3 linked regions of the Homo sapiens genome follow. The protein of the gene in region 2 purifies or fractionates together with the protein of the main gene of each other region. This does not show direct contact. Each region holds a gene or a part of one and is shown on either strand. Other genes may lie near its edges.

The links.
Region 1: the proteins of LPGAT1 (region 2) and POTEF purify together in Homo sapiens (affinity purification with mass spectrometry; 3 studies listed by BioGRID and IntAct, with this or other methods). This does not show direct contact.
Region 3: the proteins of LPGAT1 (region 2) and SNRNP27 purify together in Homo sapiens (co-immunoprecipitation; one large-scale study listed by IntAct). This does not show direct contact.

Annotation. Positions count from the first base shown.
Region 1 is NC_000002.12:130,073,005-130,077,344, reverse strand, and holds the end of POTEF (POTE ankyrin domain family member F), read left to right. Parts: intron 1-143; coding exon 144-264; intron 265-1,772; coding exon 1,773-3,101; 3' UTR 3,102-3,810; downstream 3,811-4,340.
Region 2 is NC_000001.11:211,747,253-211,750,904, forward strand, and holds part of LPGAT1 (acyl-CoA:lysophosphatidylglycerol acyltransferase 1), read right to left. Parts: intron 2,799-3,652; coding exon 2,647-2,798; 3' UTR 1-2,646. UniProt on the Homo sapiens protein: Lysophospholipid acyltransferase involved in fatty acyl chain remodeling of glycerophospholipids in the endoplasmic reticulum membrane.
Region 3 is NC_000002.12:69,896,813-69,900,464, forward strand, and holds part of SNRNP27 (U4/U6.U5 small nuclear ribonucleoprotein 27 kDa protein), read left to right. Parts: intron 1-564; coding exon 565-644; intron 645-3,652. UniProt on the Homo sapiens protein: May play a role in mRNA splicing.

The sequences.
Region 1 (4,340 bases), on a different chromosome or scaffold from region 2:
TAACAGATGTGAGACCCCTTTGCCTTGTCTTGGAATAATGTGCAGATATGCATTGTGTGAATGACATCTGATGGCGCCATCTTGCCCTGTACATCATTTTAGGGACAGCTCCAGTATTTCATGAAAATTAAAATTTCTTCTAGTGACGAACAAAATGATACTCAGAAGCAATTTTGTGAAGAACAGAACACTGGAATATTACACGATGAGATTCTGATTCATGAAGAAAAGCAGATAGAAGTGGTTGAAAAAATGAATTCTGAGGTATTTTCTTTAGTTATTTTCAAATGTTTTTATATGTGTGTATATTTTAAAGAACTGTATTTTGGAAATATAAAGGATTTTTAAGTCATATATATGTGTGTATATATTCTATATATCCTTTGTCATATATCTATATACGTACGTATAGGATAAAGCCATGTTCTTAATTCACCTTCATTTGCCTGCAACAGTTGAGTAGTGACCTGCACAATGGCCTCAATCCAAAGGAGAAGTATTTGATATTTTTCATAAGAATTGATGATCTTTCCACATCAGAAATAAGTTTTGCTACTGAAAACAGATTTTCTCGTTTTTGGACATTAGTTTTTTAAAAAATGTTAATAGAGAAGTCAATTGATTATTTTTACTGATAAGAAAGTAGGAAATGTATAGCTGGGTCAGAGGCCACATTGTGGATACCATTATCCTTACTTTTGCAGAGAGGAACAGTTTGCTCCAAGTAGTTTCTCATTTCAATGTAAAGAGGTTTGAAAAGAATGACATGCCATGATACACATTTAGTAATAATTTATTGATAAGTATTTTCTTTCTGGAGAAATAGTTCAGTATATTTCCCCTATTTCACCATTACTACTGTTTCAAACATTATAAAGAGGAAATAAAAGTTACCGCAATGGCAAATAATCTCATGATTTCTAAGAAAATCTCTATAAGTTGTATCTTATTTACCATTCATATTTTGAAACAAAAGGTTTCTTTTGTATTTATATATTTACACCACAGAAGTAAGTGTGGTTTTGTGGAGGATCACTAGAAGTAGCATCAGCAGACCTGGGGAAAATCCTGCATCTGTGTATATTTTTTGACCTCTCCTTTTAAGAATCGCGATCTTAAATGAGTTCAGTATTATATGTAGAAGAGCAATGCCTAGATACAGATGTGTACAGTGTAGAAGGGTACAGTGCTTATTTGACAGTTATAAATAAATGTAATTCTTATAACTGAGTATAGAAATATTAGAAATGTAGAATATCGGTAAAACGTTCTTAAGTAAAAGAAACTTAAAGAACTTTGAGAAATTGCTTCTGTCCAAATATATGCATAGCTAAGGCTCTTAGGATGGTGTGGTTGATAGGTTAGATATCAGAGTGTAAACCTAATCTTAAAAATGTAGTCAAATTATTAATCTTATATTTTATGCCTCTGGGTTTTTTGTAACTCAGAAAAAAGGCTTTTTTTAATTCTGGGATTCTTAAAAATCCTCTAGTGATTTATTTTTCATCGTCTTTAAATAAATATTTAAACTTTTAGGAATTTAGGAGCAGATTCCTAAAAGTTTAAATATTTATTTAAAGACGATGAAAAATAAATCACTGGAGGAATTTACACTCTTATTAGGTTTGAAGTTTTGTCCAATTTTTTTCCAGTTAAATATCCACTATGGGGATTCTTTCATTATACAAATACATGTTATTTTTGAATTTCAGAAGAAATCATGATATGTCAATCTATTGAGTGCTAACTAAAAGTTCTCTTTGTTTACTTAGCTTTCTCTTAGTTGTAAGAAAGAAAAAGACATCTTGCATGAAAATAGTACGTTGCGGGAAGAAATTGCCATGCTAAGACTGGAGCTAGACACAATGAAACATCAGAGCCAGCTAAGAGAAAAGAAATATTTGGAGGATATTGAAAGTGTGAAAAAAAGGAATGATAATCTTTTAAAGGCTCTACAATTGAATGAGCTCACCATGGATGATGATACCGCTGTGCTCGTCATTGACAACGGCTCTGGCATGTGCAAGGCCGGCTTTGCGGGCGACGATGCCCCCCGGGCTGTCTTCCCTTCCATCGTGGGGCGCCCCAGGCAGCAGGGCATGATGGGGGGCATGCATCAGAAAGAGTCCTATGTGGGCAAGGAGGCCCAGAGCAAAAGAGGCATCCTGACCCTGAAGTACCCCATGGAACACGGCATCATCACCAACTGGGATGACATGGAGAAGATCTGGCACCACACCTTCTACAACGAGCTGCGTGTGGCTCCCGAGGAGCACCCCGTCCTGCTGACCGAGGCCACCCTGAACCCTAAGGCCAACCGCGAGAAGATGACCCAGATCATGTTTGAGACCTTCAACACCCCAGCCATGTACGTGGCCATCCAGGCTGTGCTGTCCCTGTACACCTCTGGCCGTACTACTGGCATCGTGATGGACTCTGGTGACGGGGTCACCCACACTGTGCCCATCTATGAGGGGAATGCCCTCCCCCATGCCACCCTGCGCCTAGACCTGGCTGGGCGGGAACTGCCTGACTACCTCATGAAGATCCTCACCGAGCATGGCTATAGGTTCACCACCATGGCCGAGCGGGAAATCGTGCGTGACATCAAAGAGAAGCTGTGCTATGTTGCCCTGGACTTCGAGCAGGAGATGGCCACGGTGGCCTCCAGCTCCTCCCTAGAGAAGAGCTACGAGCTGCCCGATGGCCAGGTCATCACCATCGGCAACGAGCGGTTCCGCTGCCCCGAGGCGCTCTTCCAGCCTTGCTTCCTGGGCATGGAATCCTGTGGCATCCATGAAACTACCTTCAACTCCATCATGAAGTCTGATGTGGACATCCGCAAAGACCTGTACACCAACACAGTGCTGTCTGGCGGCACCACCATGTACCCTGGCATGGCCCACAGAATGCAGAAGGAGATCGCTGCCCTGGCGCCTAGCATGATGAAGATCAGGATCATTGCTCCTCCCAAGCGCAAGTACTCCGTGTGGGTCGGTGGCTCCATCCTGGCCTCGCTGTCCACCTTCCAGCAGATGTGGATCAGCAAGCAGGAGTATGATGAGTCAGGCCCCTCCATTGTCCACCGCAAATGCTTGTAGGTGGACTCTGACTTAGTTGCGTTACACCCTTTCTTGACAAAACCAAACTTCTCAGAAAACAACATGAGATTGGCATGGCTTTATTTGTTTTCTTGTTTCATTTTTTGTTTTGTTTTTTATTGGCTTGACTCAGGATTTAAAAACCGGAATGGTGAAGGTGACAGCAGTCGGTTGGAGGAAGCTTCCTCCAAAGTTCTACAATGTGGCCAAGGACTTTGATTGTACCTTGTTCTTCTTTTCAATAGTCATTCCAAATATTGTGAGACGCATTGTTTCAGGAAGCCCCTTGCCCTGCTAAAAGCCACCCCACTTCTCTCTAAGGAGAATGGCCCAGTCCTCTCCCTAGTTCACACAGGGGAGGTGATAGCATTGCTTTTGTGCAAATTACATAATGCAAAATTTTTTGAATCTTCGCCTTAATACTTTTTAATTTTGTTTTATTTTGAATGATCAGCCTTCGTGGCCCCCCTCTTTTGTACCCCAACTTGGGGTGTATGAAGGCTTTTGGTCTCCCTGAGAGTGGCTGGAGGCAGCCAGGGCTTACCTGTACTCTGACTTGAGGAGAGTTGGATAAAAGTGCACACCTTAAAACAAATTGAGGAAGCACAGTATTTCAGTACAGTGGACAGCTTAGCATGTTGACAACTGAGAATAAAATGCTCAGTTCTGAACTGGACAATGTAAGACACAACGAGGAAACACTGGAAATGGAAATTCAATTACGTCATTGTAGACTGGCTGCTGCTCTACATGATTGTGACCAAAGTCAGATAGCTGAAAGAGACTTCTTTCCAGAGAACAAGACATGAACAGGTTTATTTACAGAAGACAATGAATTCTCATTTATCTCACCTAAAAGAGAACAGATTCTTTCTCAACAAGTCTAATGAAGACAGTAAAATCAACAGGCTAAAAATTAAGCTCCACGAAACAAGATAAAACTCTGAGAGAAAAGACGGGGCAGGCCGCCATCTTTCCCGTTCAGGCAACGTAGTCATTCCAGCCTGCGGGCTTTGGAGAGTACAAACCGACGAGGGACAGAAGAGATCCCACAGCACAGCATAGCTGCTTTACCAAATCATGGCCAGACTGCTTCTGTAAGCAGGCCCCTGATCCTGTTCCACCTCACTGGACAGGACCTCCCAACTGGGGCCTCCAGCTACCCCCACCAGCATTCCTTGGCCAATGGAAATGTGAAATGTTCCTGGGACAGAGCTCCCGGAGAGGGGCAGGCCCCCA
Region 2 (3,652 bases):
CCAATGCTTTCAAACATATTTTGCAAACAGAAGAGAGAGAACATGTTAAAGAATCAAAGAAGGATAGGGCAGATCAAATACACATCTATTTACAACTCACGGAGATATTTAAAAAAATTAACTCACATATCTATTGGCATTTGTCACCCTGGAGACTGTGAAAATGACACCGTACTTGAAAAGTAAAGCATCTTATAGAATAGTTTAATGTGTACAGTATATTTAACAATATCATGTTCCTTTGGAGCACAGTGATGGCAAAAGTGGCCCTCAGCCACATTTATGTATGCATGTTCGCATTTATTTTTGGATAGGAGAACTGGTCACTCTACCCTGTGGCTTGCTGTAGCAATGAGGAAAAGGTCTATCAGCTAGGACCGTGCATGCTGTATTTGACAGTGAGCAACTTCTCCCCCAGATGGTTGACTAATCCCTCAAGTGAACAATTTCATTTCATCCAGTAATTTAGTGGTGCTTGCTGGGCCTCAAACAGAAGCATCATTAAGCTTCTATTGGGCTTTCTGTCATCATCCATACCTCTAAATTGAGATTGGTTTCATTTATTCACCGACACTGTAGAACACATAATGAAATGCTTAGATTTAAAAAAAAATTGCATTTTATAACAACCAGTCCCCAAACCAAACACATTAACACTGTCTTCTGCATTTTACCAGTAGTAGTATAATATTCAATGAGGTATTTCAGTTAATGCATCATTCTCTTTCACATATGCACTGAGTTATCGTAAAGATGAAGCTGCTGTGGGCTTTTATTTGGTGTTGCTTTACCTTTCCCACATAACTGGGGAAAATTCACATCTTTTCTGTTTTTTTTTGGTTTATTTAAAAATAGAAAACAGCAACCTTTTTTTGTTTTATAGCCTACTTCTCAAAATTGTTGTGTGATTAGTGACAACGGGGGAATCTACAATGCTCACATCACAGTAAACTACCACTGACTTACTAGGATCTTAATAGTCTTACAATCCCAAACAAAAACCCTACTCATCTCACTGATGCAGTACCAGCACTTTTGGAGAAGGGTGTGGTTCTCTTATGAGGTAAATTGTACAAACATCGCAACAAATTTCTAAAAAATGTTTTCTAGAAATAGAAACTTGACTTTACCCTCTTCAAAAGCAACTGGAGGCCGGGCGTGGTGGCTCACGCCTGCAATCCCAGCACTTTAGGAAGCCGAGGTGGGCAGATCACCTGAGGTCAGGAGTTCGAGGCCAGCCTGGCCAACATGGTGAAACCCCATCTCTACTAAAAATACAAAAATTAGCCAAGCATGATGGTGGGTGCCTGTAGTCCCAGCTACTCGGGAGGCTGAGGCAGGAGAATCGCTCGAACCCGGGAGGCAGAGACTGCAGTGAGCTGAGATTATGCCACTGCACTACAGCCTGGGTGACAGAGTAAGACCTGTCTAAAAAAAAAAGAAAAAAGAAAAAGCAACTGGAAGAGATTGGGGGGAGCCTTATGTGCTGGTATCGTTCCTAATTACACTCACCCTGACAGGGGCAGCTCCTTGATGTAATGATTCAACAGACTACTGTCTGCACAGGTCCTAGGGGTGCCACATGAGAACCTGTCACCATTATAAGCCACTAGCTCTTATTTTTCTATAAACTAGCCTATTTCCCCTTAAACTGATCATTTAAATGTTCTATAGTAATTTGTTTTAACCATCCCCAAATGCATTTAGTGCCAATGTCAAAATGGAAAAAATAAAGCCTCTGAGCTGCAATAGAGGCATCACGTCAGGGTGGTGTCCAGGGCAGGATGGCGCTGGAGAGCACTGGCAGGCAAATAAACACACAGAGACAAGACAGTTCTCGAGAACCTCACACACTGCTATGCTCCCATTTGTTTTCAGGCTATATTACTAATCCTTTGCTATATCTGCATCTCAAAAAAGTGCATTTTGCAAAATTATCAATTTATGATATGCCTCTGATACAAAATGAGAAGTCAGATAAGGAAAAGCACGAGTGTATGTAAACACAGTGTTGGACTGAGCTAGCCTTTGTAAAGAACACATCCAGTACCAGAAGGGGTCCAGTGGACACTGCTTTTCCCCCACAGAGAATGTCAATATTCTAGAGTTTGTTACTGCAACAGACTGGAGTTTGTTACTGCAACAGACTGGAGTTTGTTACTGCAAACGACAGGGAAAGAGTTCTTCACGAGGTGCCAACCAGCTCCCCTCAAGTTTACTGAGTTGGTGGAAATGTGGGCGTTCTAGAGAACTGCCCTAATATAGACTACAGCTAAGAGGGATGAATATAACTTTCTGAGCTTCAACTAAATTGTCAAGTATAACTGGTGGCAACAGAATTTCTCTCAGATAGTCTTCTAGGATGATTTTATGATTTCCTCTTCTCCAAATGTGATGTTTGCTTAAATATGTGATAGAGTGTATCTTTTTAAAACATGTTCTTAAAATATATTAGCAGGTCATTATATTACTAATCCTCATTTTAGTAGATTTTAAAATATCCCAAAGGGGGATAAATATTAATCCATCCATTGAATTTCTTTTGCTTTTTTTTAAATATATTCTGATTTGCACATGTAAAATAATGCACACTTATGAAAGAAAGTCTGAACTCCTACGGTGACCTTGACAAGTCCACGTCAATTCCTAAAACAGGCAATGGTAAAAATACTGAATGATGTTGTACCACATATAGCCTGACAAAAATGCAAAAGACTGTATGAGAAATATCCACAAGTTGCTGAGGGTCATCTCCCTGGAAACAGCTTCCTTATGGCCCTTGGAAGGTGGAAAAGCTCCTAAAAGACAAGATAGAAATATTAGTTTGTTTTACTGTAATGGTAGGTCTCCTGGAATAAAAGTTGAATATTAGCTTAACTACATTTGTACATGTTAAAGCACCTTCAGTGACTTTCCAGTGCCCCAGAGGAGAGATTTTATTTGAAATACAATTTCTGTACTACCTAGCCCCTTCTTGCCTCTGAGCCTTTGCCTTTTCTCTGCCTGCAATGCTGTCCTCCTCCACTTAATGAATAGCTGGCTCATGTGCATCCTTTCCATATCAGAAAAGATATTCCCCCTCCCATCTCTGTTTATCTCCTTCCTGGAACTTTTTCCAATTGGTCATGATCCCAATTATCTTTCTTTCTGCAGACTTGTTTGCCATGTCTCCCACTGGAATATAATCTGCATGAGAGCAGGCACTCTAGCTGCCTTGTCTCTGCTGGATCCCTAGAGATTCCCACAGTGATCAGGACCCAGGATTATGTGAGATTGACATGAAATAATTTCTGAAATAGCACACTTTATGCTGATTCCTCTATTTACAAATTTTTTGTCAAAAAAGTAGTTGTATAACACTGACATTATTTTTAAAAGGCAATATGCTTTATGAAATGTATCTTAATAATAAAAGAAATACAAAGTAAACAGATGTCTTTAAATTCGTTTCTGGAAAGGAATGCTAGATAACTTCATACAGCAATATTACCTAAGGTCATCTTGATAACACTCATCAGCATTTCAAGCAGTCTTTGTCCTTGCTGATAATCCCCAGGGTAAGCTGATTCATGAGGGGATTTGCTTCTCACAGGCAATTTACAGAGTGCATTTTCAAGTTTCAAGATCTAATATGCAAACAGCTTTCTTTAAA
Region 3 (3,652 bases), on a different chromosome or scaffold from region 2:
ACAGGCACCCGCCACTATGCCCGGCTAATTTTTGTATTTTTAGTAGAGACGGGTTCTCACCATGTTAGCCAGGCTGGTCTCAAACTCCTGACCTCAGGTGATCCTCCCGCCTCGGCCTCCCAAAGTGCTGGGATTATAGACGTGAACCACCGTGCCCAGCCTGAGATTTTGTTTTAATTGCACCCTAGCAAGTTGCTGGTTATCTATGGTGCTCCTGATATAGAACGATAGTTAAAAACATGAGAATATTCTATTTTGGAAGTGTCTTCAGAACTATATAGTGTCATGCCTGATATTAAAGGTAGTCCTTAATATGAAACCCAGGTTTTTTTTTAAAAGGTAATCCTGTCTAAAGGCTTCAAGGAGAGGACTTTTTTTTTGTACCATAAGTTACATTCTGTCCAAATGTAAGAGGAATTTTTTCATTAGACTCATCTTCAGCTAATTGTTTTGTGTGTTCTCTGCTAGTGAGGTGGAATGACTATTAATCTGTTACCACCTCTCTTTTTATTTATGTATATATTTGAAATGATAGAGAGGTCACAAAATTATTCTTTTTTGCAGAGGAAGACTTAGAGGGCAAAACAGAGGAAGAAATAGAAATGATGAAGTTAATGGGATTTGCCTCCTTTGACTCCACAAAAGTAAGTAAAACGTGCAACATTCTCATTTGAATTAATATGTTATGACTGTCCTATCTTTCCATGTTCTTTTCCATTTATACAAATTTATTTGGTTATAAGACAATAACTATCTGTTTGAAGGGCTTTGAGAATACAAAGGAGGAAACAGTGAACTGCCATTGGAATTCAGGGAGTGGTTGCCAGGGACGATGTTTGAATTAGATTTTAAAGGACAAGTAGAAGTGATCAGACAAAGAAGAGGAAGAAGATTATTTCAGGTAGAGGGAAGAGCTCATGAAAATGCCATGTAGGTGTAAAGGAGCATAGTGTATTGTGGGAATTTCAGATTCGACCAGGGATAAAGGGGTGCTGATGGGCTAGTGACTTAGGCTAGAAATAGAGGTAGGAGGCAAATCACAGAGGGCTTTTGATGCCCTTAGTCATGCTAAGGAATTCAGAGTTTATTCTTTTGGTGTTGAGGAGAGGAAGTAGTGATTTTTAAATAAGGGAGTGGCATGGTTATATGTGTGTTTTGGAATAATGACTCTGGGGGCAGCATGGAGGACAGATGGGAGGTGGGTTAGATTGAAGGCAGGGAGAACTGCTGATTTGTGCAAGTGAAAGATGATAAAGGCCTGAACTGAGTTGAGAATGATTCAGGAGCTGGGGGAAGTGGGAGTGAGTAGTTAGTAATGCCTCTCAGGTGTCAGGCTGGGACCCTGAGTGATACAGTTAACCCAGAACAGAGTTTCTGGAAGGGGAACTGCTGGGAAATGGAAGAACAAAATCCAGCTGCCAGATAGAGATGACATTGGGCAGCTGCATACTTGTCTCATAGCTTAGAAGTGGGGTGGATAGGGGAGGGAATGCTGTCTAGCCTTCATAATAGCAGAGAGATGAGGGAAGAGGAAAAAGAGGGAGGGATTATATAGAGGAGGGAGAGCATAGAGCGAGAGATGGGGGAAGAGAGAGATGGGTATAGAGAGAGGAAATGAAGAGAGGAGAGGGGATGGAGAGAGGGAGGGTGTGTGGAAAGAAAAACATATTTTTTAAAATCTCTTTTCTAGAATTTTAAGTCTTTCCATTTAGTTTTGCAAATGGAAATAGAGATGTTTGAGAAAAAGTTGTCAAAAATAATCCACTTTCCCAAGTCTTGTATTCCATTGAGTTGCTAATGGAATGGGGTAATCTCAGTGGCTGTAAGTTTCTTTCTAACTAATGTGACTGTGTAGGGCTCACATGTTTTAAAATGACAGTGTGTAACTTAGGAGTACTGAGGCATGACTGTTTTGAGGTGAGAAATTAAGAACAAGCTCTTGTTCTTGCAATGGTTATGTGAGCTCTGTTTTGGAATTTAATGAAGTTTATTTATCAGCTTTTTTCCCTTGAATGCCCTAAATTCTTATTTATTTTCCAAAGACTATTTTATAAATGAAAGTTTATTAAGATATATGTTGGGTGAAATGTAAGTTTATTAAGATATATGTTGGGTGAATTAAAATATGTCAAAAGTAAAGCAACTATAGTTTTATTGTCTTTAGAAGAATGGGGAGGGAACTTTTTCCCCAAAGAAAATGGAATTATTTTCTTTGTTTTTTGGTTTTCCTGTTGCTGGATGTTAGGTTTAAAGTTCCTGAAAGTCAGATCTAAGGGTGGTGCCACCCATCACTTAAATGTAGTCAGTGAAGAAGATGTTTGCTTATAAAGGAAAACTTAGGTGAAAAGTCATAGATCTTAAAAAAATTATGGAGTACCATCACACTAATTGATGTCAGTTTTTTAAAATGACATCTACAAGGATGTCAATTTAGTTTATATGCAGTTGGCTTCATGGCTATCAGTTATAACGTCAGCTCATTTGTGTTTTTAAGTAATGTGTGTCTTGTGATGTTTCATCATTGATCTATTGTGGGACCTCTTCATATGCCAGTATAGTCACCCATTTTCCTTTCTATTTGATTGTATTTTCATTTTTTTATTTGTATTATTTTTTATTTTAATTTTATTTTTTCGAGACAGAGTCTCGCTCTGTTGTCCAGGCTGGAGTGCAGCGGCGCAATCTCGGCTCACTGCTACCTCCGCCTCCTGGGTTCAACCGATTCTCCTGCCTTGGCCTCCCAAGTTGCTGGGATTACAGGCGCCTGCCACCACGCCTGGCTAATTTTCGTATTTTTAGTAGAGATGGGGTTTCGCCATATTGGCCAGGCTGGTCTCGAACTCTTGGCCTGAAGGGATCCACCTGCCTTGGCCTCCCAAAGTGCTAGGATTACAGGCGTGAGACATTGCGCCCGGCCTCATTTTTTAGTTTTTTAGAGACAGGGTCTTGTTTTGCCACCCATACTGGAGTACAGTGGTATGATCATGGCTCACTGCAGCCTGACCTCCTGGGCTGAAGCAATTTCCCTGCCTTAGCCTCTGGAGTAGCTGAGAGTAGGCACATGCCGCCACGCCAGGATAATGTTTTTATTTTTTGCAGAGATAGGGTCTTGCTGTGCTGCCTAGATTGGTCTTGAACTCATGGCCTCAAGAAATCCTCCTGCCTCAGTCCATTTTTTTTTTTTTATTTTTGAAGAGACAGAGTCTTCCTATGTTGTCCAGGCTGTACTCAAACTCCTTGGCTCAAGAAATCCTCTTGCCCCAGCCTCCCAAGTAGCTGGGACTGTAGCCTCACAGCAATGTGCTTGGCTTTTCCCTTTCATCTTATTAGATTGGTGGAAAAGTAATTACAGTTTTTGCCATTGAAAATAATGGCTAAAACTGCAATTACTTCAATAACATTTTTCTAGATGGTTTCAAAGTTTGGTTTTGTTTATTAATGGATAATTTTCTATGCCAGCATGTAAATAAATGAGGATAGGGCTAATAATATGCAATTCTGCAAATAGTTTCCAGAAATCAGTAAACCTTTAGGAATCGAACTTTGTAAAAAGGTTATCATCATTTACTTTTTTGTGCCCAAGACCAGTCTTTCTAAGTCATGCTTACTTCCTATTATAGGGAGTTCAAAATCATATACCTCACAAGTAATT